Homo sapiens: one gene and its partners. The protein of the gene in region 1 interacts with the protein of each later gene in a biochemical or structural test. Each region holds a gene or a part of one and is shown on either strand. Other genes may lie near its edges. The genes, in order: PKN2, HTRA1, PDZK1, GRID2IP, GRIP1, DLG4 and RHOA.

Evidence for each region.
Region 2: the proteins of PKN2 (region 1) and HTRA1 interact in a test that uses a peptide from one of them, tested with the Homo sapiens proteins (one large-scale study listed by IntAct).
Region 3: the proteins of PKN2 (region 1) and PDZK1 interact in a test that uses a peptide from one of them, tested with the Homo sapiens proteins (one large-scale study listed by IntAct).
Region 4: the proteins of PKN2 (region 1) and GRID2IP interact in a test that uses a peptide from one of them, tested with the Homo sapiens proteins (one large-scale study listed by IntAct).
Region 5: the proteins of PKN2 (region 1) and GRIP1 interact in a test that uses a peptide from one of them, tested with the Homo sapiens proteins (one large-scale study listed by IntAct).
Region 6: the proteins of PKN2 (region 1) and DLG4 interact in a test that uses a peptide from one of them, tested with the Homo sapiens proteins (one large-scale study listed by IntAct).
Region 7: the proteins of PKN2 (region 1) and RHOA form a complex in vitro, tested with the Homo sapiens proteins (2 studies listed by BioGRID, with this or other methods).

What each region holds. Positions count from the first base shown.
Region 1 is NC_000001.11:88,774,773-88,778,272, forward strand, and holds part of PKN2 (serine/threonine-protein kinase N2), read left to right. Parts: intron 1-3,500. UniProt on the Homo sapiens protein: PKC-related serine/threonine-protein kinase and Rho/Rac effector protein that participates in specific signal transduction responses in the cell.
Region 2 is NC_000010.11:122,485,553-122,489,052, forward strand, and holds part of HTRA1 (serine protease HTRA1 precursor), read left to right. Parts: intron 1-3,349; coding exon 3,350-3,449; intron 3,450-3,500. UniProt on the Homo sapiens protein: Serine protease with a variety of targets, including extracellular matrix proteins such as fibronectin. HTRA1-generated fibronectin fragments further induce synovial cells to up-regulate MMP1 and MMP3 production.
Region 3 is NC_000001.11:145,670,485-145,673,426, reverse strand, and holds the end of PDZK1 (Na(+)/H(+) exchange regulatory cofactor NHE-RF3), read left to right. Parts: intron 1-406; coding exon 407-697; intron 698-1,787; coding exon of another isoform or gene 1,788-1,820; exon of another isoform or gene 1,821-1,937; coding exon 1,938-1,991; 3' UTR 1,992-2,162; coding exon of another isoform or gene 2,163-2,183; 3' UTR 2,184-2,442; downstream 2,443-2,942. UniProt on the Homo sapiens protein: A scaffold protein that connects plasma membrane proteins and regulatory components, regulating their surface expression in epithelial cells apical domains.
Region 4 is NC_000007.14:6,548,662-6,552,884, forward strand, and holds the start of GRID2IP (delphilin), read right to left. Parts: upstream 2,801-4,223; 5' UTR 2,776-2,800; coding exon 2,347-2,775; intron 1-2,346.
Region 5 is NC_000012.12:66,389,077-66,392,576, forward strand, and holds part of GRIP1 (glutamate receptor-interacting protein 1), read right to left. Parts: intron 3,427-3,500; coding exon 3,232-3,426; intron 1-3,231. UniProt on the Homo sapiens protein: May play a role as a localized scaffold for the assembly of a multiprotein signaling complex and as mediator of the trafficking of its binding partners at specific subcellular location in neurons.
Region 6 is NC_000017.11:7,207,628-7,211,127, forward strand, and holds part of DLG4 (disks large homolog 4), read right to left. Parts: intron 613-3,500; coding exon 547-612; intron 1-546. UniProt on the Homo sapiens protein: Postsynaptic scaffolding protein that plays a critical role in synaptogenesis and synaptic plasticity by providing a platform for the postsynaptic clustering of crucial synaptic proteins.
Region 7 is NC_000003.12:49,377,477-49,380,976, reverse strand, and holds part of RHOA (transforming protein RhoA isoform 1 precursor), read left to right. Parts: intron 1-3,500. UniProt on the Homo sapiens protein: Small GTPase which cycles between an active GTP-bound and an inactive GDP-bound state.

The DNA of each region.
Region 1 (3,500 bases):
ATCATAGCTCACTGTAACCTCAAACATCTGGGCTCAAGCAATCCTCCTGCCTCAACCTCCTGAGTAGCTAGGAGTACGGGAACGTGCCACCACACCTAGCTAATTTTTAGTTTTTTGCTAGCAATGGCGTCTCACTGTGTTGCTCAGGCTTGTCTCAAACTCCCGGCCTCAAGTCATCTTCCCACCTCAGACTTCCAAAGTGTTGGGATTATAGGCGTGAGCCACTATGCCCAGCCTCTATTCTTACTTTTCTTATTCCCTTCTTGCTCCCTTTTATGAGATAGATAGATATATATATTCTCCCACCTCAGCCTCCCTAGTAGCTGGGAGTACAGGTGCACACCACCACGCTCAGCTTATTTTATTTTTTTTGTAGAGATGGGGTTTCTCTGTGTTGCCCAGGCTGGTCTTCAACTCCTGGGCTCGAGCAATCTGTCCACCTTGGCCTCCCAAAGTGCTAGGATTACAGGCATGAGCTACTTATGCCTGGTCTTTCACTAAATCTTGAACTCCTCGCAACCACTCACCTCACTTCCTCCGTAGTTTTGCCTTTTCCACAATGGTCATACAGTTGGAATCTTAACAGTATGTAGCCTTTTCACATTGGTTTCTTTCACTTAGTAATATGCATTTAAGTTTCCTCTATGTCTTTCCATGCTTTGATAGCTCATTTTTGGTTTTGTGCTGAATAATACTCTATTGTGTGGATGTACCATAATTTATTTATTCATTCATTTACCGAAGGACTTCTTGGTTGCTTCCAGGTTTTGGCAGTTATGTATCAAGCTGTTATAAACATCCATGTGCGGGTTTATTATTTTCTTAGTGATTACCCCAATGATTATAACTAATGTCCTAAATTTATTATAATCTTATCTTTAGTAGCCTACAAAAAACTCTTTGACTGTGCCCTTGTTATATTGTCACAAACTCTCTTTATGCACCATATACCCATTAACATAGGCTATAAATATTGTTTTATGCATTAGTCTTTTAAATCATAAAGGAAACAAAAAGAAGAGTTACTTAAAATACAGAAATATTGGCTTCTGGCCAGGCGCAGTGGCTCACGCCTGTAATCTCAGCACTTTGGGAGGCCGAGGCGGGTGGATCACGAGGTCAGAAGATCGAGACCATCCTGGCTAACATGGTGAAACCTCATCTCTACTAAAAATACAAAAAAAAATTAGCCGGGCGTGGTGGCAGGCCCCTGTAGTCCCAGCTACTCAGGAGGCTGAGGCAGGAGAATGGCGTGAACCTGGGAGGCGGAGCTGGCAGCGAGCCGAGATCGTGCCACTGCACTCCAGCCTGGGTGACAGAGCGAGACTCCGTCTCAAAAAAAAAAAAAAAATACTGGCTTCTATATTTACTTATGTAGTTAATTTTACCTGCGTTTGTCTTCCTTTTTTCCTTTCTCTCTCCCTCCCTCCCCCTCCCCCTACCCCCTCCCCCTTGCCCTCCCTGACACTGCCCCCACCCCGCCCCACCCGTCACTTCTCCCATCCTTCATTTCAATCTAAAAGGCTTCTTTAGCATTTCTTATGGGCGGGTCTCCTAGTGTCTACCTCCCTTAGCTTTTGTTATCTAGGAATCTCTTTCTTTTCTTTTTTTGAATGATAGTTTGGTATATATATAGAATTCTTGGCTGGCAATTTTGTTTTTTTCCAGCACTTAAAAAAATGTCCAACTAGGCACAGTGGCTCACACCTATAATCCCAGCACTTAAGGAGGCCGAGACGGGTGGATCACTTGAGGTCAGGAGTTTGAGACCAGCCTGGCCAGCATGGTGAAACCCCATCTATACTAAGAATACAGAAATTAGCCAGGCATGATGGCGCATGCCTGTAATCCCAGTAACTCAGGAGGCTGGGGCAGGAGAATCGTTTGAACGCGGGAGGCGGAGGTTGCAGTGAGCCAAGATCATGCCACTGCACTCCAGCCTGGGTGACAGAGTAAGACTCTGTCTTAAGAAAAAAAAAAAAAGTCCTCCTGCTTCCTCCAGGCCTTTATGTTTTGTGATGAGAAATCCACTGTTAATGTTACTGAGGATCCCTTGTAAGTGATGAATTATTTTTGTCTTGTTGCTTTCAAGCTTTTCTTTGTTTTTTCACAGTTTAATTATAATGTGTCTTAGAGTGGATCTTTTTGAATTTATTCTACTTAGATTCTTTGAGCTTGATGTGTAGGTTCTTGTCTTTCATCAGATTTGGGAAGTTTCCAATCATTTCTTCAAATGTTCTTTCTTCTCCCTCTGAGACTTTGATTTTTGCCTACATTGGTGTGCTTTATGGTATTTCTCTTAGACTCTGATTTTCTTCATTATTTTTTCTTTCTGCTCTTAAGACTAGACAAGTGCAATTGATCTACCTTCAAATTGGCTCACTTTTTCTTCTGCCTGCTCAAATCTTGTATTGAACCTCTCTAGCAAATTTTTTCATTTTTGTTATACTTTTCAATTCCAGAATTTCTGTTTGGTTCTTTTTTATAATTTTTAAATCCATATTGATGTTCTCTATTTGTAGACACATCACTTTTCTTGTTTCCCCTAGATATTTGTCCATGGTTTCTTTTAGATTTTTGAGCATCTTAATTTAGTAAGTCCAACATGTCTTGACTTCCCCAGGGTCAGTTTCTGTTAATTTCTTTTTTCTGTGAACTGACCGTATTCTGTTACTGTGCTTGCTTCATAATTCAAGTACTTCATTTCCTTAGTATACTTACTCACAAATCAGATTTTACTCTTTCCAAAGATTTCATTTTTCTGCTATATGTTGAATGTAGTTGTTTGCCTAGTAACTTTTATAATCTATTTTGTAGAGACTATTCTTTCTCATGTATTACCCCTGAGGTGTCTATTTCATTAATATATTGTACACCAAAATAAAATTCTAAGCCACCCAACTAAATGAATGGACCCCCTCCTCTCAGCCAATGGCATTCTAAAGTAAACCTGAAACACTAGTTCAGGTCGTGCTGGGAATGGGTGGTTTGGACATGCCTCATTATGCCTTCCTCCCTTTGGAATTCAGGTACTGCAGACCAGCATTAACATCAAAACAGAGACCTTAAGACTGACTGAACAGACTCTTTCAGTAGATAAGAAACATTTACAGTCTCTTCTTTCTGAAGCCTGCTATCTGGAGGTTTCATCTACAAAATGAGAACCTGGGTCTCCACAACCCCTTATCTTAACAGCACTCTTACAATACTCCCTTGTATTGATTCCAGGTCTTTAGATAAACTCTTTCTACCAGTTGCCAATCAGAAGATCTCTGAATCCACCCGTGACCTGAAAATCCCTACTTCGAGTTGTCCATCTTTTCTGGACCCAACTAATGTACCTTTTACATGTATTGATAGATGGCTTATGTCTCCCTAAAATGTACAAAACCAAGCTGTAACCCAACCACCTTGGGCACGTGTTGTCAGGACCTCCTGAGGCTGTGTCACGTATATCCTTAATCTTGGCAAAATAAACTTCTAAATTGAGACCTGTCTCA
Region 2 (3,500 bases), on another chromosome or scaffold:
GGCTGCTCAGTGGACTGAGGCTGGAACTGGGCCTTCCAGTGGCCAGGCCAGATCCTCCTTGATCTCCCTTGTTGCTTTCCTGGTGGGAAGACCCTGGAACCACTTTATGTGACTGTGTGAGAAGGGAACTGCCTCTCATTTTACCCAGCAAAATCCACCTTCAATCCATCTTCATTTTTGCCCCTGGTGTGGGCAAATTCTCCCATACCTAATTCAGGAAGCCAGAAAGAGGAAGTGAGTTAATGATCCTTAGTGGGAAGGCGCTGGTAATGGTCCTTCTTGTGAGAGTTTCTGAAACACCACGCTGTCTCTGTGTTCTGGCCTGGCTGGAGTTAAACCTCTTCTTGGCCTTTCCCCAGGAAGCTGGTCTGAGGAAGCCCAGATGCGTTTGTTTACAGCTGTCTGGTGACATTCGCCAGGCTCTGTTTTCAGAAGGAACATTTCCATTCCCTTATTTACACCTCCCATTGGAGTGCTCGGGGGGACACACCAATTATTTGCAACTACCTGGAAACCTAGGAGGGTAGCAGATCTGTAGGAGGCCAGTGTTGAAGTGAGAAGCTGTAGATCTGGTGACACTGTGGGCTTGGGAGGGCTTGCCCAGATCTGTTACTTATACTCTCTATTAAGAAACTTCAGTGTCCATGGAGAAGTTATTTAAAGTCTGCGAGCCTCAGTTTCCCCATATATAATATGGGAAGGATACCTGATTTTCCTATTCCACATGAAGGTAGAAAAAATTAAATTAAGGCAGCCAATGAAAGGGTTTTGAAAGCAAAAATAATAATATGATACTGTTCTGAATTTGTTAAATTATTCTTCCAAGTAGTTGCAGATCTTTTTCTGTACCTTAGAAAAAAACCATGCTATGTAAAAGGAGATGATTCCAATCTTTAAATAAAGCAACTCAGAGGTCAGGGGCTAGGACAGAAAACGGCCCTTTGTTCACAGAAGCGCTCTCACTTCCAAGAAAGCAAGCGTGGGAGAGGCAGGTGGTCCTCCCGATGTCCCTGTGCCCCATGGTGTCAAGCTGGGTTACTATGGCCCTTCGTGACCCAGTGCAGCAGGGATGTGGGAACCAGTGGGTGTGAAGCTGTGACGGGTCACAAGAGGGCTGGGACGTCTCACAGCTTTTACTTATAGCCTAGAGCCTGGGGAAGGGTTGCCACTCTAGTGATGAGAGAGGCGTGTGTGTGTGTGTGTGTATGCGTCTGTATGTATGTGTGCATTTGCATGTATATATGTGTGACTGTATGTATGTGCACATCTGTGAGTATATGAATGTGTGTGGAAGTGTGTATAGGTGTTTATGTGACAGTTTGTGTGTAAATGTGGGTGTATGTGTGGGTGTGTTTATGCATGTACATCTGTGGGTGTGTATGCATAGTGTGTATGTGTGAGTTTGTGTGTGTGTGTGCATTTGCATCTCTGTGTATATATGCATGTGTGTTAGGGGCAGGCACACAGGCCTGTTGGTAAATGAGACACAAAATACCTACAAAATACAAAATGTGAGACAGGAAATACAAGCCCCAGTTACTCATTTTTCAGTGCAACAGACATAAGATTACCATGTGAAATTGCTATGAAAGTTTCCGAAAGCTTCCTGTCAATTCGTAGTGAGCAGCTAGCAGAGGAGTGCGGGTCCCTGGAGCCTGCTTGTGCAACGCTGAGCTAGTCCAAGGGGGAAGAATGGGGTGCATGGCTCTCAGCTGCAGACCAGCCTGGAACCTCTCCAGCCTGCTTTAGCAGAGACTTGTTAAGAGGTAGCAGCAGGTGGCAAGATTAGGAGCCGGAGTAGTAGGCTAAGGCTGCACTTCCAGGGACACACTGCCTCTGCCACCACCCGTGCCACGAAAATGGGAGCCCAGGACCCTGAATCTCTAGCAGTCCGTTTCTGAATCAGTTACCTTGGGTATGTGCCTCTGGTTGATGGAAACTAACTTGTAGCCCTGCTGGGTGAGAGCCTCACATCGGGACATGTGACAGCTTTGTTGAAAGTAGCTTTGGAAACGCCCACCACGTGGGGCCACTCACTGTAATATAAACGGTCATGCATCACTGAGCAACAGGGATACGTTCTGAGAAATGCGTCGTTAGGCGATTTCATCACTGTGGGAATGTTACAGAGTGTGCCTACGCAAACCTAGATGGCAGAGCCCACTCCACACCTAGGCCAGATGGCAGAGCCTGTTGTTTCTAGGATGCACGCCCGTACAGTAGGTTACTGTACTGAATACTGTAGGCAGTTGTAACAATGGTGAGTATTTGTGTATTCAAACATAGAAAAGGTATAGTAAAAACAATGGTGTTATGGTCCGCGGCTGGCTGAAACGTTATGTGGTGCATGACTGTAGGTATAAAGCATTACAGTTGTTTGATTTTTCTCTTTTTCTCACCCACAGTCTTAAGGCACCTCTTATGCCTTTTGTCTGGGATGTCCCGGGCAGGGTTGGAACGTGTGGTTAAGGCATGGCGGAAACTGCTTTGGGGACAGACGATGGCCTCAGCTTGCCTTGGGGTGTCAGTGGGAAAGATAGGAGCTGCCCCTTTGCCTTCGTGTTTCTTCGTAATAATCTCAGATGTACCCGTCTGGTGGGCCTCTCCTAGAAAAAGCCCCGGTGCTCTTTGCTCCTGCGGTGTTTCTCAGGAGGGTTGTTGCTTCTTTGTAATGGTGGGGACTCAGGGAAGGGACGCAGGCAGAGGGTGATGCCACATCAAAAAGGGACCCTTGGCTGGGTGTGGTGGCTTACGCCTGTAATCCTAGCACTTTGGGAGGCCGAGGCAGGTGGATCACCTGAGGTCAGGAGTTCGAGACCAGCCTGGCCAACGTGGTGAAACCCGGTCCCTAGTAAAAATACAAAAATACAAAGGTGGTGGGTGCCTGTAATCCCAGTTACTCAGTAGGCTGAGGCAGAAGAATCGCTTGAACCGGAGAGGTGGAGGTTGTGATGAGCCAAGATTGCGCCATTGCACTCCAGCCTGGGTGACAGAGTGCGACTCCATCTAAAAATAAACTGAAAAAAAACAAAAAACAAACTTGGGCCATCAGCTTCTTGGAAAGGCTGGTGTGAGGTTGAAGCATTTGCTGGTGCCTCTGCTCAACGTTTTTGTGGTGAACCTGAGCAAAGAGGTTATCATTAGTGGATTTTACTGCCTTACCTGGGTGGGCACTCCCTTGGGAGGTGGATGGACATTTGCAGCTGAGCCCAGGTGGGGGAATTGCGCTCACTCCGCCTTCAGAATTCCAAAGGCTGGGCATGCATCTTGGCTTCCTCTAACCCATGTCTTTCTCTAGGTGGCCACAGCAGAGTGTCATTAAGTATCTATTCTTTGCTTTTGTTCTCAGGGCAGGAAGATCCCAACAGTTTGCGCCATAAATATAACTTTATCGCGGACGTGGTGGAGAAGATCGCCCCTGCCGTGGTTCATATCGAATTGTTTCGCAAGTAAAGAGAGCCTTCCTTTTTCCTATAACCTCCGAAGCTTTCACCGCCACT
Region 3 (2,942 bases), about 57 Mb from region 1:
AGTTGACTGAACTCTAGTTGACAGTCACTATCAACCCTGATTGGCAGTCATATTTGTTTGCTTCTGTGCATTTGGCATAATGCCCCTTACCCTGTAGGGACTGATAAGAATCCCTAAAGCTTTCAAGTTGGGAGTGAAGAAGGGGGACCTATTTATCCCCCTTCATCCCAGAAGACATATGATGCTGAACCACTATTTATAATACCACTAATCATGTGAATATGGAAGTTATAGCCTTCATAAATATAAAAGCATTAGAACACCTTTCTCAACTTCTATACCTCAAGGAGAAATAATAACATGATTAAAAATAAATTCTTGAGCTCCTCATCTATTCTCTTAAGGAGAGCTAGTCTGATGTCCCCTTCTCTGTTTGAAATTGATAACTCAGAACTTCTGTTCACAGGTACAGAAGGGCGGTCCTGCTGACTTGGCTGGGCTAGAGGATGAGGATGTCATCATTGAAGTGAATGGGGTGAATGTGCTAGATGAACCCTATGAGAAGGTGGTGGATAGAATCCAGAGCAGTGGGAAGAATGTCACACTTCTAGTCTGTGGAAAGAAGGCCTATGATTATTTCCAAGCTAAGAAAATCCCTATTGTTTCCTCCCTGGCTGATCCACTTGACACCCCTCCAGATTCTAAAGAAGGAATAGTGGTGGAGTCAAACCATGACTCGCACATGGCAAAAGAACGGGTGAGTGGGGGCCTATTTCTTTTCGTGATCTAATTTACTAGAGTATGGGTACAGTCCCTATGAGTATATTTAATGTCTATGTTTGCCACAGATTTTTTTAAAACTAGAAAATGAAAATGTAAAGATAACTAACAAATCAAGTTATTGTAGAGGACAGGAGGCAGTATAAGAACAACAAATTTCTTACTTTCATAGCATGCAGCTGACAGCAACTGTCTAGAGCTAATAAATCAAGAAGTAAAAAGTTTATCAGTATTGTAATGGGAACCCCCAAAAGAGCCTGAATCGGATGATCTAGATATGAATTCTGGTTCTGTCATTTGTCAGCTGTGGGGAAATGGATTTATTTGTTCTGTTCCTCAGTTTTCCCACCCATAAAACAGGAATAATTTGTAGGATTGTTATCAGGATCATGTTAACTAAGATTAACTATATTAAAGTGCTTTGAATAGTGGCTGGCTCATAGTGAGCATGTAAGTGGTGACGGTTAAAGACAATATTGTTTAAAACAACTGACAGGTAATCCAGTTTTATTACTAGGAAAGATTAAGCATTCTCTATATTATTCTCTATATATTTGGATTAAATTTCTTGGTAAGTCTCAGTTTTATATTTTTGCCCAATTTTTCATAGATGAACTTGAGGTCGAAAAGTAAACTGACTTATCCAAGTTCATAAAGGAAATTTATAGCAAAGCCGAGACTCTAAAAAAGTTTAATTCAATGTTGTTCTTCTTTCCATTATATTAATTCTGCTAATGGGTGGAATATTCATTTTAATAAACTCAGTTTAATGAACACACACAATGCCCACTGATTTGTATTCAGGAATGCTTAATAAATACTATTAGTTGTATTAGTTGTCATTTAAAAATTCTGTAATTTCTCTTTAGGAAGTCAATATCCTAGTCTTATAAAAAAGAAATATACACAGACATTAAGGAATTTGTTAATGTGTCAAACAGCAAGTTGAAAACAATCAAGTGTAGAATTCAGGTCACCTGACTTCTAGTCATACCCAGATCATCTGATTCAGGCTCTTCTGGGGGTTCCCATTACAATACTGATAAACTTTTTACTTGATTTATCAGCTCTACACAATTGCTGTCAACTGCATGCTGTGAAAGAAAGAAATTCTAGTGAGTGACTCTACTCCCCGACTTAAGTCATGCAACTCTAGAATAGATCATCCCTCTTTCATTACTCTACCATTTGTAAATTCTTTGTTTTCTTATACACAGGCCCACAGTACAGCCTCACATTCTTCTTCCAATTCTGAAGATACAGAGATGTGATGAAAACAAGTAATAGCTTTGGCTGTTTATTTGATAGCTGTTTCTGGGTATTTAATAGGAATCCTTTCTCAAGGAATGAGTTGTGACCTGTTTACTGTCTCTTTAGAAGAAAAACTCCACTGGAAACCATTCACCATGTGTGATTGTCTTCTGTTATCATTTGTCTTACAGGCGGCTATTGCAGACGGCTAATTTATGCTTAACTTAGGAAGAGATAAGGCAAGAGCTAGATTTTTTTCATGTGATCTTTTCCAAGCTTCAACTTAACTTAACTACATTTCTCTGTATGATGATGTCTCTTACTTCTACAGGTTCCTTGAGCACCAAAGATGATTCATAACTCTGTATAGGTGACAGCTGCTTATAAAAGCATCTTAGCAGATAAGCCTATTAAAATTGTGCTTTTGTAACAATGTTGTGGTTGCTAGAATAAATACCATTAACAAATGCCTTTTGAGTATGCTTGATAGTGCTTTTGTTTTGGATTCACTTTTTATGCTTTAACCTTCATTTGCCTCTAGAAACCCAAAACACAATAAAGTACAGAATAAGACCTTAGTAATAAAATTCAGAATTTTCTTAAATTGCATGTCTGAGTGTTCTAAAAATTTTTCAACATTTCCCTTTCACAAGTGACTTATTCCCCCAGTTAAGTTATTCACGGTTTCACCCCACAGCGTGAGGGGCAGATAGAAAAAAAAAAAAGGAAACATCACTACCGAATTGAAAGTAGGGTATAATACTAAGTTCACAGGAAATCAAGAAAAAATGACATACCTGAAATCTCTCTTTTGGTAAAATCTATTTCAGGTGCATACCACCCCTTTCCCGGAAAAGAACAGATAACCTCTTTCTTGGTTATTTTAATGGGGCAGGATCAGATGAGGAGGTGTGGGATGCTAACTGATGTTAGATCACACAAGCATAATAAATACCAAGCTATGCTTGATA
Region 4 (4,223 bases), on another chromosome or scaffold:
CCCATCTCTACTAAGAATACAGAAAAAAAAAATAGCTGGCCATGGTGGGGTACGCCTGTAATCCCAGCTACGCGGGAGGCTGAGGCAGGAGAATCACTTGAACCCAGGAGGTGGAGGTTGCAGTGAGCCGAGATCACACCACTGCACTCCAGCCTGGGTGACAGAGCGAGACTCTGCCTCAAAAAAAAAAAAAAAAAAGTCTATGAGCTTAAGTGTCCCAGCCGCCAAGCAAATACTGAGTTTCCAGGCTTCATGTCCACAGGGGTCCGATAGCCAGGCAGGGGTAGGGACTGAGTGTCTTGGCTCCGGACTATTTCCTAGTCGCACACAGGATCACTTTTTGTTCCATTCAAGTATTAGTGAAATAAAGGCCTTAGGACCCCATCTGAAAGCCCTGGAGGACAGGAGTGAAGGTGAATGGCATGGGAGGTTGCTGTACTGGGACCTAGTCAGTGGCCTGGGGTAGCTGTAACCATACTAGGCAGCTTCTTCTTTTATAACCATGTCACGTCCCAGGTTTCTTGGAATTGCCTGGATCTGTCCAGTAAATGGCAGGTTCCTGCAAATCAGGGGTTGCTTGGGATTCAGGCCTGAGACCGACTCTATCCTCCCTCTTTCCATCCCAGCCCTGGGTCTCTAAATGGTGCCTCCATCTTGGCTTGTGGCCACACCCTACTTCCTGCAGGTGACTCAGGCCTTGGGTTCTTCTTGTGGCTAGAGGTCTGATCCATTCCAGGCTCCTCATTCTTAATCTTCAGGACCACGCTAATATTCCACCTGCAGTCTATCACAGCCTGGTTTGTGCCAAAGTCAAGAGGAAATGCCTTTGGCAGATTGGTGAAGCCAAACTAGGGCCTCCTGCAGCCAACAAGCCAGCCAGGCCGCTGTGCAAGGGCAGGTCTAATCCTGGTTTTGTGGGGGCTTAGAACAGGCGGAATTCTTTTACATTTTTTTGGAGGTGGGGAATGGCGGGGAGGGGAATGGAGTCTCACTCTGTCACTCAGGCTGCAGTGCAGTAGCATGATCTCAGCTCACTGCAACCTCCGTCTCCCAAGCTCAAGTAATCCTCCCACCTCAACACCCTTGAGTATCTGGCACCACAGGCGCGCGCCACCACACCTGGCTGGTTTTTTTTTTTTTTATATTTTTGATAGTGATGGGATTTCACCACATTGCCCAGGCTGGTCTCAAACTCCTGAGTTCAAGTCATCAGCCCTCCTCAGCCTCCCAAAGTGCTGGGATTACAGGCGTGAGCCACCTCACCCCACTGGCTCTTTTACACTTGATCTTAGATGAAGGGCCAAGAAGCGATATCTGTGGCTCTTTTTATTTTATCTTTTTATTTTAGAGATGCGGTCTCACTCCGTTACCCAGGCTGGAATGCAGTGGTGCAGTCATGGCTCACTGCAGCCTCAAACTCCCAGGCTGAAGCGATCTTCCTGCCTCAGTCTCCTGAGTATCTGGGACTATAAGGCATGCACCACCATGCCAAGCTAGTTTTTGATTTTTTTTGTAGAGATGGTGTCTCATTACGTTGCCCAGGCTGGCCTTGAACTCAGGGTCTCAAGTGATCCTCCCACCTTGGTCTCCTAAAATGCTAGGATTACATCTAGCACCTGGCCTGCAGTTAAGTTCTAATGGGGAGGATAGACAGAGAAAGGGGCACGTGGGAACATTCTGGTGTCAATTATTCTATAGTCTACATTATATTTTTATCTATATCCTATTATTTTATATATTGATCAAGAGGGTGGTTATTCAAGGGTGCATGTATATGGAAAATTTATTGAGCTGCACACTTAATGCACTTTACACCTATAGTACCTTAATAAAAAAGAAACACAAGTGAATAAAAATTGCAAAATTAGGCCGGGCGCAGTGGCTCATGCCTGTAATCCCAGCACTTTGGGAGGCAGAGGTGGGCAGATCACTTGAGGTCAGGAGTTTGAGACCAGACTGACCAACATGGTGAAACCCCGTCTCTACTAAAAATACCAAAAAAAAAAAAAAAAAAAAAATTAGCTGGGTGTGGTGGCAAACGCCTGTAATCTCAATTACTGGAAGACTGAGGCAGGAGAATCACTTGAACTTGGGAGGCAGAGGTTGTACTGAGCCAAGACCTGGCCACTGCACTCCAGCTTGGGTGACAGAGCGAGACTCTGTCTCAAAAAAAAAAAATGCAAAATTGTTTGCAAGGTTTTGAAGTTGAGCATTCCCATATTTCTGTTAAATCTGACCCCAGAAGTTTCCTTACCTCTGGCCCTGGGAGAGCGGCGCCCGGCCCACTCCCTGCCCACATTATGAGCCCCCTCCTTCCCGCCCCCACCTCCCACCCCCGCGCCTTACCTTGCGGCTGAACTCTTGGGCCTTGCGCCTGCGCTCTCGGTGCACCGCGTCCGGGCGCTTGCGGCCGGCCAGGCGAAGCAGCTCACGGCCCAGAGCTAGGCCGCGGCCGCACCGCGGGGCCCGCAAGACTGTGGTCGGGGCCGCGGGGCCGGATCCTGGGCCGGGGCCACCGTCGGGAGCCGGGAGCACGCCCAGACTGGGCGGCACACGTGGGCAGCGCCGTGCCAGGCGCACGAGGCGCTCGCGGCTCAGACCGCCCACCGCCAGCCCCTCCACCTCCAGGATCTGGTCTCCTGGCCGCAGTCCTCCGGCATGCGCGCTGCTCCCCTTGGCCACCTCCAGGACGAAGCAGGGGCCAGAGCCACCTAGCCGGAAGCCAAAGTCCTCTGGCCAGCCCTGGTTCGTGGCCGGCGTGGCAGTGGTGGCCATGCACCTAGAACTGGAGACAGAACAGGGATTTCCTTGCTGCTCTGTCCATGGCTCCAAAGCCACTCAAAGGCCCAGGGCCACTGAAGGCCTCTACTTATCTCTGCCTCCTCCCTCTGACTCCGTCTTTGTCTCAATTCCCTTCCATCTATGTTTTTTTGTTTTGTTTTGTTTTTGTTTTTTTAAGACAGAGTTTCGCTCTTGTTGCCCAGGCTGGAGTGCAATGGCGTGATCTCAGCTCACCGCAACCTCCGCTTACTGGGTTCAAATGATTCTCCTGCCTCAGCCTCCTGAGAAGCTGGGATTACAGGCATGTGCCACCAAGCCTGGCTAATTTTGTATTTTTAGTAGAGACGGGGTTTCTCCATGTTGGTCAGGCTGGTCTCGAACTCCTGACCTTAGGTGATCTGCCTGCCTTGGCCTCCCAAAATGCTGGGATTACAGGCGTGAGCCACCGTGCCTGGCTTGCCTAATTGTTGTATTTTTAGTAGAGACAGGGTTTCACTATGTTACCCAGGCTGGTCTTGAACTCCTGGCCTCAGGTGATCTGCCTGCTTGGCCTCTCAAAGTGCTAGGATTACAGGCATGAACCATCATGCCTGGCTTGTTTTTTTGTTTTTTGTTTGTTTGTTTGTTTGTTTTTACTAAAAACAAAATTGGGGAGGGGGTGTAAAAGAAAAATGGCCCTTCCTTAAAGTCTTCTTTTGAGTGCCTTGGATTTTTAACCAATGCGGCCACATCCTTTTCCATGGGCCCCTCCTGCTTCCACAGGTCTGTTTTACTGTCTTACATGTACACTTGGCTTCCATGGGCCCTCCTCACTCCCTACACTTTAATCCCTCTTCTTACCCCTCTCCATCTACCAAAATTCCCTTTCGGGATCTGGCATGAATCACAAACTTACGGAAGTCCAGAATGTTGGAGCAGAATGGTCCCTCAGAGACCATTCATATCTTTGGGCATTTATTTTATTTTATTTTATTTTTGAGACAGAGTCTTGTTCTGTCACCCAGGCTGGAGTGCAGTGGTGTGATCTCGGCTCACTGCAACCTCTGACTCCTGGGTTCAAGCGATTCTCCTGCCTCAGCCTCCCGAATAGCTGGGATTACAGGTGTCCACCACCATGCGCGGCTACTTTTTGTATTTTTAGTAGAGACAGGGTTTCACCATATTGGCCAGGCTGGTCTCCAACTCCTGACCTCAGGTGATCCACCTGCCTTGGCCTCCCAAAGTGCTGTGATTACAGGCGTGAGCCACCGTGCCCAGCCTCTTGGGCTTTATTTTTTAGAGGCAAAGTCTCACTCTGTCACCCAGTCTGGAATGCAGGAACACCATCATATCTCACTGCAGCCTTGACCTTCCAAGCTGAAGTCATCCTCCTGCCTCAGCCTCCTGAGTAGCTGGGATCACAGGCGCATACTACCATGCCCAGCTAATTAAAAAAAAATTTT
Region 5 (3,500 bases), on another chromosome or scaffold:
AAAGGGAACAGAGAGAATGTGCAGGGGCTTCCTGGAACAAGGCAGAGAGCCTGCTGAGAGGCTGGAGGGACAGGTTGGAGAGATAAGCTGTATCTCACAACATAATATTGAATAGGAAAAATAAAAGTGTGGTTCTATGCCTTGCTTTTATTTTTGTTTTAATTTTTTTTGAGACGTAGTCTTGTTCTATTGCCCAGGCTGGAGTGCAGTGGCATGATCTTGGCTCACTGCAATCTCCGCCTCCTGGTTCAAGCGATTCTCCTGCCTCAGCCTCCCGAGTAGCTGGGATTACAGGTGTGTGCCACCACGCCTGGCTAGTTTTTGTATTTTTAGTAGAGATGGGGTTTCGCCACGTTGCTCAGGCTGGTCTTGAACTCCTGACCTCAGGTGATTTGCCCACCTCAGCCTCCCAAAGTGCTGGGAATATAGGCCTGAGCCACTGCACCCAGCTGTGCCTTGCTTTTAAAAAGTCAACCTCACAAGCACAATCTGGAGAGATGCAGTTTAACTGAATATCACGGGTAAAGAAAAAAAAACACATTCACAAGACTTTGAGATCTCGGTAAACTGTAAGCGCAAAATGAGTGACAGATGTGCCATGACCACTAAAATTCTTATGTTGAGGTAGGTGTCATTGATCAGTTCTCCTGTCTTCAATGATGCCAGTGACCAGCTTGCTTTGCTCCGGGCTGTCGGGCTGTTGTGTGATTTTCCTTTCTGAATGTTACACTTTAACGGGTACACAGGTAAACTGAAGCACATTCGTAAGGGAGGTCCACAGGACGATACAGATACTCGTCAGTAAATTATAGAAGACACAGTTAAAGGAACTGGGGCTATTTTGCTTGGAGAAGGAAAGCCTCAACAGAGACCCAATAGCTGTCTTCGAGTATCTAAGGGGCTGTCAGGAGAAGAGGCTTTAGTCTAGTGCAGAATGACCTTGAGGGTATAGCCGGGACTATTAGGCATACTGCAGCTCAATACAAGTGAGAGCTTTAGAGTCATCAGAGCTACGTGGAGATGGGGGGCTGCCTCAGCACAAGGAACAACCTGTCACCTTGGGCATTCAAGTCCATGCAGCGTGTCTTGGCGTGCAGTGAGGCAGGACCTGGCACCAAGGGCTGCACTGGACATCAGACTAGCTGACTCCTAAACCCTTTCCAAACCTGAAATCCTGCCTTCAGCTCCCATGTTCGTCACAAGAATTAATGGGGATTAGTTATGTGAAAGTGCTTTGTAAACTCTAGAGTGTTCTATATATATAAAGGGTTATTACTATTTTTTCATTACCTTGGAGTACTTCGATTCTATCCTGATTGCCATTGTCTCTACTTATCCCTCAGTTCCCTTCAACCTCATAAAAATGTCTAAATTATAAATGCAAAATGTAATATTATGACTATGATTCAAAATTTCAAAATGCTTCACAAATAGTAAATGGTTTTTCATCTTTTACTAGTGAGGGGCAGGTCCTATATTCAGTTTGCTTCTCATGGTCCTGTGTCTGTGGTTTCAAGGGATGGAGTAGCTAAGGTCTTACAGATCACCTTACAGGGAAGAACTAATTAATATCAATAGCACCCTCACAAAAATCTCTGGTAACAAAAATATCTCTACATTAATAAGCAATACACAAAAAATACACAAATAAATAACCAATACACAATAAATTGATAAATAAACCTGAGTCTACTCTGATAGAATGTGACTTCTGTCCTTTACTCAGTGTCTTCTGGTGGCCCATCAATTCTCAGGCAATCAGAAGGTCTGTTATTTGGTGGCATAGGTGAACTTGTCACAAGGTATTATGACTTGGAAAAATTAATTGCCAGATAAAGCCCCAATTCTACTTAGGTGTTCAAAGTATTTTCCCCACCTAACTCCAGTATCATCTCTAATGAAAGTAACAACTTGACAACTTTGAAATATCATCTCCTTTCATTTTTTTTTCCAGTTTTTTCTCCCTTCCATTTTTGTTTTTTGTTCACCAGAGGACTTAACAGAGAGTGACACAACATAGGCAGGCTGAGAGAAGGAAACTAGGAAAACCAGGAGAGAGCAAACTGGATACAGACACTCCTAAAAAGTACAGTTAACTCAGTGACAAAGCAGCCCTCACACCAATGTGTTCTCTAAACTGTTTATGTGTTTTATTATTTGACTGACTGAAACCCAGAGCAAACAAGGGATTCAGAGGCTGGAATTTACATAGAACATGAGAGAAGGTAAGGCTCAGATGAGGAGAAATACCAAGAAGTTTTGACATACTTCTCTTGTTGATGCTACGGATCACTGGGAAGAAAATATTTTTTAAAAGAAGCTATTAGTTTATGCTCTGTATTCAGTCTGACACCTTTTATGTGTTTATATTCCATGAGTGAGGCTTTTTAATGTAGATAGTATTTCTTCACATGACGATGACACCTATGAAGAAAAATCTACTCTATACTTTCCTATATTGTGATTATAGTGCTCTAATTATAAACATTCAGGGAAAGGGCATGGTGGCTCATGCCTATTATCCTAGCACTTTGGGAGGCCAAGATGGGAGGATTGCTGGAGGCCAGAAGTTTGATACCAGCCTGGAGAACATGACAAGACCCCGTATCTACAAAAATTTAAAAATCAGCTGGGTGTGGTGGTGTGTGCACATAGTCTCAGCTACTGAGGAGACTGAGGCAGCAAGATCCCTTGAGTCCAGGAGTTTGAGACTATAATGAACTATGATGGTGCCAGGGTATTCTAGCTGGGGTGACAGAGTGAGACCCAGTCTCTAAAAGAAAAAAAAAAGTCAGGAGTGTGCAGGAATAAATAGAGTCACAAATCATTGGCTAATCTCTTATGCACCTCTTCCAAACTCCCCAATCCATCTTTGTGGAAAGCTTGCTGAAAAATAAGGCAATGGGGCCTGTATTGAACGAGCCACTTTATTGTATGGTTTGCCTCACATTAATCTAAGCTTGAAGGACAAGCCCTGGATGGGATACTTGGCCATCAGTAGACCTAATGGAGGCCTGTTAGTGTTTGGTAAAGGTTCATGCCTTATAAGCACTAGAAGAAAATGCATGGCCAGCAGAGTGTAAGTATTCAATGTGTTCAATATGATTATGGCTGCACCAAAGCAGACACAAGTTAAAGAAAGATATTCTCCTCATGGAGCAGAGGATGAATCTTGGAGAAGCATGGGCTTCAACAATGACAAGTCCTCTGGGGGACAAAGTAAAGACATACCTTGAGTTCCATAGCTGGTGTCTATTGCAGACCCATCCCATGAATCCACAGCACTGTCCACACTGGGCACCGTGGAGGGGTACATGTCGGAGAGCTTGCCTGGCTTCTGTGCTGGTGAGGAGTCCTCCTCCACATCCCCCAGGTCACTCAAATGGCTAGAAATAGGGAACTTCTTGGGGCTCGATGCTGACTGGGCTTTATAGACAGGAAAGGAGTTTAAGTATCAGAGTAAATTTAAATAAAAATATACCAAGATACTCCGTGGCTAG
Region 6 (3,500 bases), on another chromosome or scaffold:
TGAAGGAATGAAGAGGTCCCAGGCGTGGGGGCCTCTTGGGGGATGCACACACCTCAACACACACGCATACAGCACACGCACAGGCACACAAACGGCGCACGCACGCACACACACACACAGCACACACACAGGCACGCATGCATGCACACACGCACAGGCACACACACAGCACACGCGCACAGGCACGCGCGCACACACACATTCTTGCTTTAGGCTTTACATCCACTCCCATTGGCCTGGCCTGTTTCTCCTCTGTGGGACCAAGGTGTTTCCAGCCCCACAAACGCCCCCTCCCCCAGACCCCAGGAGCCCAAGCCCCAAACCCCCGCCCCCAGTCCCAGCATCCCCCTCCCCACGGCTCTCTCTCACCCTACCGGCCCTTAGGGATTGCTGCAGCTCCGAGGCTCCGAGGGCCGCACTGGGGAGGGGGCCACCAGGGTCTCCTACCTTGAAGGGGGAGAGGTGGGCGTGGCCCACGACCCCGTGGCCAGCCTCGAGGTGGGACAAGTTCCTCTCCGCCACGTGCACCAGCTCGGGGGCGTTTACCTGGTTGGGGAGGTGGGCCGGGCTGTGCTCCAGAGGGGGCGTGTCTTCATCTTGGTAGCGGTATTTCTGGGGATGGGGACGGAGGTGTCACTGGGGCCAGCCCGGTGCCTCAGGCTCCAGGCTGGCCGCCCTGGCCGCCGCCTCTTCCCCCAGCCAGTGCAGTGCGGAAGGCCCTGGGGCCTGACCAGCTCCTCCCCCTCCCTCTCCTCTAGCCCATTGGCTCCCCTCTCTCCACTCTCCCAACAGCCCCCTCTCCCGCCAGGGCCTCAGCACCTCTCATCAATCCCCAGGTCCCAATCCCATCCCCCAACTCCTACTCCTCACATCCTGGGACACTGGCCTTCTGGTGGGCATAGCCCCTCTGGCATCTGTGTCTTCACCCCTTTCCCCACCACCTTCATCTTCGAGTCCCTCCAGCTTCTCAGAGCTCTAGCCCCGACACTCACATCTCCATTCTCTGCCTCCAGTCCCCAACTTCCTTGCTTCTCTCACCATCTCAGACTCACTCTTGTTCTAGCCTCCCCTCCCCTACCCCTCTGGCTGCTCCTACTCTGCATGGCATCCTCCCCGCGCCCCACCTCCATGGCCTCAGTCTCCCCATTGCAGCCTCTACCCCACAGGTGATTGGCTCTCCTTTACCTTGCACTCCTTAGGCAAGGACTGAAGTCACCCCTTCCACCAGAAGGTACTTGGTATCAGCCCCCGAGACAGGACAAGGCTAAGCCTGTCCAGTTCACTGCCCTTGCTGGTTTCCAAGCAGTCAACAGAGGGGCCCCGGGAGTCTGGCCCTACCCCTGCAACAGCCCACAGCCCAGCCAGCTAATCCGGTTATGCTATAAGGGCATGGGCTGGGGGAGGAAGGGGAAGAACAGAGACAGCAGGGCTCAGGACAGGGGCAAGAATGGGTGCCAGCCTCCCTGGTTGGGGAGGAGGGTAGCATGCTGAGCCTCAGAGTGAATTTCTGGTCTCCCTCTGCTCTTTTGGGGTGAAAGGCCCAACATGACCCCTGACTCCCTGCCCAGTTAATCAGCTGCCATCCCAAGGGCCTCCTGTGCTAGCTTAATAGGGACAACAGTAAAATGAGATTAACTGGGGGCCAGAGAAGGAGGAAAAGGGCAGATGGAGACAGCAGAAGAAGACAGCGTTTCTGCCTGGGTCCTTCCGTGTCCGCCTCTGCCCTCGCCTGCTCCTCTCCTCTGGAACGGGCCTCCACAGAGACTGACCCTCCAAGCTCCAGGTTCAGGAAGGGGAAGGTATCATACGCAGGGATCCCTCAGGAACTGAAGAAGACAGAATGCACCGCCCAGTACACATGGGTAAAAAGAGAAGGCACGGCAATCCCAGCACTTTGGGAGGCTGAGGCAGGCAGACAGCTTGAGCCCAGGAGCTGGAGTTGGAGACCAGCCTGGGCAACACAGTGAAACCCTGTCTACAAAAAATACAAAAATTAGCCAGGCATGGTGGTGCACACCTGTAGTCCCAACTGCTAAGGAGGCTGAGGTGGGAGGATTGCTTGAGCCCAAGAGGTGGAGGCTGCAGTGAGCCATGATCACGCCACCGCACTCCAGCCTGGGCAACAGAGTAAGACCCTGTCTCAAAAAGAGAGAGAGGCCAGGAGCAGTGGCTGATGCTTATAATGCCGAGGTGGGTACATCACCTGAGGTCAGAGACCAGCCTGGCCAACATGGTGAAATCCCATCTCTACTAAAAATACAAAAATTAGCTGGGCGTGGTGGCACATGGCTGTAATCCTAGCTACATGGGAGGCTGAGGCAGGAGAATTGCTTGAACCTGGGAAGCGGAGGTTGCAGTGAGCCGAGATCATGCCACTGCACTCTAGCCTGGCGACAGAGTGAGACTCCATCTCCAAAACAAAAAAGAGAGAGGGCGAGCAGAATTTCCCTCCCAAAAGTTTCTGAGAGGCTGAGAGTGCCCTAATACTTAGAGGGCAGCAGCTGCGAGATCAAATGGGAGGAAGCTTATCAAGGTCAATGGCCAATCCTTGAGTAGGATTCTGAAAATGTTAAAGATGATGAATCAAGGCTGAGAATATAACACAACTTTGGCTGTAGAGTAAGGGTACAGTAAGAGAATGGGAGAAGGGAAGTGGTCCTGTCAGCACGAAAACTCTCAAACCCAGAACACAGAGACAACTCAAATCAAGAAGCACCCTGATACATTTAAAGAGTCTTAAAGAAGGAAAACGGGCTCAGCAAGATTGAGTCTATTCTCTGGGCCACAGACTTGGAGAGAATCCTGAACTCCAGATTTCAATCCGATGGGCACAAAAAGTAGAGAAGGAAAATAGGAGAACACACAAAATAGCCCTCCTCCAAGGCTGAGCTGTCTTGAATAAAGGAGTTCTATGAACCAACAGAGACTGTTCATTCCACATCCTGAGAAGGTGGTCTTCTACCTGGGCAGTGCACAAGCTGAGGGGCAAGCCCCAGAATTGAGACCTGGGGGAAGGGGTGGAAGCCGCTCTCCGCTATCCACTCTTCCTTCACAAGGCCTCCAATTCCCTGCAAGGTAAATTAGGACCAAAGCTCCAAGTTTTGGAGTCTGGGGGAGGGTTTGAGTCCAGTGCCTCTCCATCTTCACTCCACCTCAGAGAGAAAATTCCTGAATCTGAGGAGGAAATGTCAGCGTGCACCCAAAGAAAATGGAAACATGAGGAGGGCCATTTCATCATTTATTCTAGGGAGGAAATGAAGGTAAACTTTTATCTCAGCGAGCCCCCAATACCTCTCCCTGCCCCACCCCCATGGAGGGAGGGTGGTGTCTGGCACTGAAGAAAAGGCTCCTCAGGATTGGGAGGCAACATGGAGAAAATGGGGAACAAGAAATGGGTGCCAGGGTTTCCAGAATGTGGCTGGAAGAGGTTAGGGACTAGGTTCAGTCTCTGGAAATTTTCGACGTACATGTAGGGGGGCGGGGAGAAACGTCGGGAGGGG
Region 7 (3,500 bases), on another chromosome or scaffold:
GGATAAAATTCTATAATATCTGTATCTATATATATACACACACACGTATTCACTGCTGTATGTAATATTGTCCTGAGAATTCACAAATGAGTAATGGCAGCACTGTCAGCCCTCTGAGTTTTTTTGTTTTGTTTTCATTGTTTATTTTTGTCGTTGTTTGCCCTCTGAGTTTTCTTCTGGTACCCCTGTGGATTGTCTTATCCATTCTGGTTGGGGAACATACCCTTTAGACAATATAGTTTTGATAATGAGTATTTATTATTATTATTATTATTATTATTATTATTATTATTATTATTATTTTTGAGACAAGAGTCTCTGTCACCCAGGCTGGAGTGCAGTGGCATGATCTTGGCTCACTGCAACCTCCACCTCCCAGGTTCAAGCGATTCTCTTGCCTCACCCCACCACGCCTGGGTAATTTTAATATTTTTAATAGAGATGGGGTTTCATATGTTGGCCAGGCTGGTCTCAAACTCCTGACCTCGTGATCTGCCCGCCTCGGCCTCCCAGTGTGCTGGGATTACAGGCGTGAATCACCATGCCCAGCTGAGTGTATATAATTTAGGATTAGTTTGACTATAGGTAACAGAGACTTGAAAAATACCACCTTAAATAAGACAGTCATTTATTTCTCATTCATATGGAAGAAACATGGAAGGTAGGCAGTCTTGGGGCTGAGATGGTGGCTCCCAAGATCACCTGAGATCCAGGCTCCTTTTTACCTTTTGGTTCTTCCAGCCCCACGGTATGGCATTCATTCTCACATACCAGGATGGCTGCTTAGAAACCAGCCCTTACTTTAGATTTAAGCAGCAGGAAAGGAGGAGGATAATAAAGACTTCCCTTTAAGAAAGACTTTCTGGAAGTCCCACAACATACTGCTGATTCTCACATCTCATGGTACATGGCCATGTCTCCAAGGGAAGCTAGGAAGTGTAGTCTACAACAAAGTACATAGCTAAAAATCGAAGTATGGTCTAGGAGGGAAGGGCGGGAATTGGGATGGTTGACCATCACTGTCTGCCAGATGGAAGGAATCTGCAGATTTCTCTCTTTTTTCCCCCCACTGGGGGCGAGAGTGGTGGTAACAGCTTTATTGAAATATAATCCACATATCTTACAATTCACCTTTTTAAAGTGTGAATTATATATACTGTGGGCTGGGTGCGGTGGCTCACGCCTGTAATCCCAACACACTGGGAGAGACAGGCAGGAGGATCGCTTGACCTCAGGAGTTTGAGAGCAGCTGGGGCAACGTGGTGAAACCCGGTCACTACTAAAAATACAAAAAATTAGCCGGGTGTGGTGGCATGCACCTTTAGTTCCAGCTACTTGGGAGACTGAGATTGGAGGTTCACTTGAGCCTGGGGAGGCTAAGGTTGCAGTGAGTGGAGATCGCACCACTATACTCCAGCCTGGGCAACAGAGTGAGACCCTGTCTCAAAATAAATAAAATGTGTGAATTATATATACTATAATCAATAGTTTATAGTATATTCATAGAGTTGTGCAGCCATCACCACAATAATTTTGGAAAAATCTTTTTACCTGAGAAACTCCAGTATTCCATTAGTCATTTTCCATTTCTCTCCACCCCCAAGTCCCTGCCCTAGGCAACTACCAGTCTATTTTCTCTTTCTGAATTTGTTTATTCTGGACAATTTTATATAAATGGAATCATGCATGTTGGTTTTTGTGACTGGGTTCTTTCACTTATATAACATTTCCAAGATCTATCCATACTATAGCATATATCAGTACTTTATCCTTTATCGCTGAATAATATTCCATTCCATTGTATGGATATATTATATTCATCAGTTGTTGGATATTTGGGTTCTTTACATTTTTTGACAATATATTATGAATAATCCTGCTATGAATATTCATGTAGAGGTACAAGTTGTTATGTGGACATATGTTTTTGTTTCTCTTAGATATATACCTAGGAATAGAATTGCAGGGTCATACCTACTCACATCCTTTGCTCATTTTTTAATTGGATTAGATTATTTGTCTTTTTATTATTGAATTGTAAGAGTTCTTTATTTTTTAATTTTTTCTATATACTGTATTTAGGCCTGGGGAGGTGGCTTATGCTTGTAATCCCAGCACTTTGGGAGGCTGAATCGGGAGGATTGCATGAGCCCAGGAGTTTGAGACCAGCCTGGGTAATATAGTGAAACGCTATCTGTATAAAAATTAGTCAGCTGTGGTGGCAGGAGCCTGGTAGTCCCAGCTACTGGAGAGGTTGAGGTGGGAGGATCGCTTGAGTTGAGCCTGGGAGGCAGAGGCTGCAGTGAGCCAATATTGCACCACTGCATTCCAGCCTTGGTGACAGAATGAGACCCTTTCTGAAAATAACTACATAATAGAGAAACACATAGATAGGTTAGATAGGTACATAGATTGGATAGATGCGTAGATAGATGGGCAGTGGCTCACGCCTGTAATCCCTCAGCACTGTGGGAGGCCGAGGCGAGTAGATCACTTGAGCTCAGGAGTTGGAGACCAGCCTGGGAAACATGGCAAAACCCTGTCTCTGCCAAAAATACAAAAATTAGCTGGGCGTGGTGGCGCATGCCTGTGGTCCCAGCTGCTGGGGAATTTGAAGTGGGAGGATCACTTGAGCCTCGGAGGTGGAGATTGCATTGAGCCAAGATCACGCCACTGCATTCCAGCCTGGGTGACAGAGTGAGACCTCATCTCAAAAAAAAAAAAAAAAAAAAAAAAGATAGATGGATAGATAAATAGCGTACTTCATGTCAGAAGGAGTTCTCTCTTTTTTTTTTTTTTTTTTTTTAAGACACAGTTTCACTCTGTTGCCCAGGCTGGAGTGCTCTGTTGCCCAGGCTGGAGTGCAGTGGTACAATCTGGGCTCACTGCAACTTCTGCCTCCTGGGTTCAAGCGATTCTCCTGCCTCAGTCTCCCGAGTAACTGGGATTACAGGTGCCCACCACCACACCCGGCTAAGTTTTGAATTTTTTGTAGAAACGGGGTTTTGCTGGGTTGGTCAGGCTGGTCTCGAACTCCTGACCTCAAGTGTTCTGCTTGCCTCAGCCTCCCAAAGTGCTGGGATTACAGGTGTGAGCTACCGTGCCCAGCCCAAAAAGAGTTCTTTATGATTTCAACCTTGCAAGAGATCCTGAGCCAGACCACCAACCTAAGCTGCTTTTTTGTAGTTGAGTCATAAGAGTTTGAGACAAGGTTCCACTCTGTCACCCAGGCTGGAGTGCAGTGATGCAATCATAGCTCACCACATCCTCCACCTCCTGGGCTCAAGCAATCCTCCCACCTCAGCCTCCTTGGTAGCTGGGACTACAGGTGCATGCTACCACAACTGGCTGATTTTTTTTTTTTTCTTTTCCTTCTTTTTTTAGAGACAGTGTCTCACTGGGGTTCCCCAGGCTGGAGTGTAGTGATGCAATCTCAGCTCACTGCAGCTTCCACCTCCAGGGCTCAGGGGATTATCCCACCTGAGCCTCCCAAGTAACTG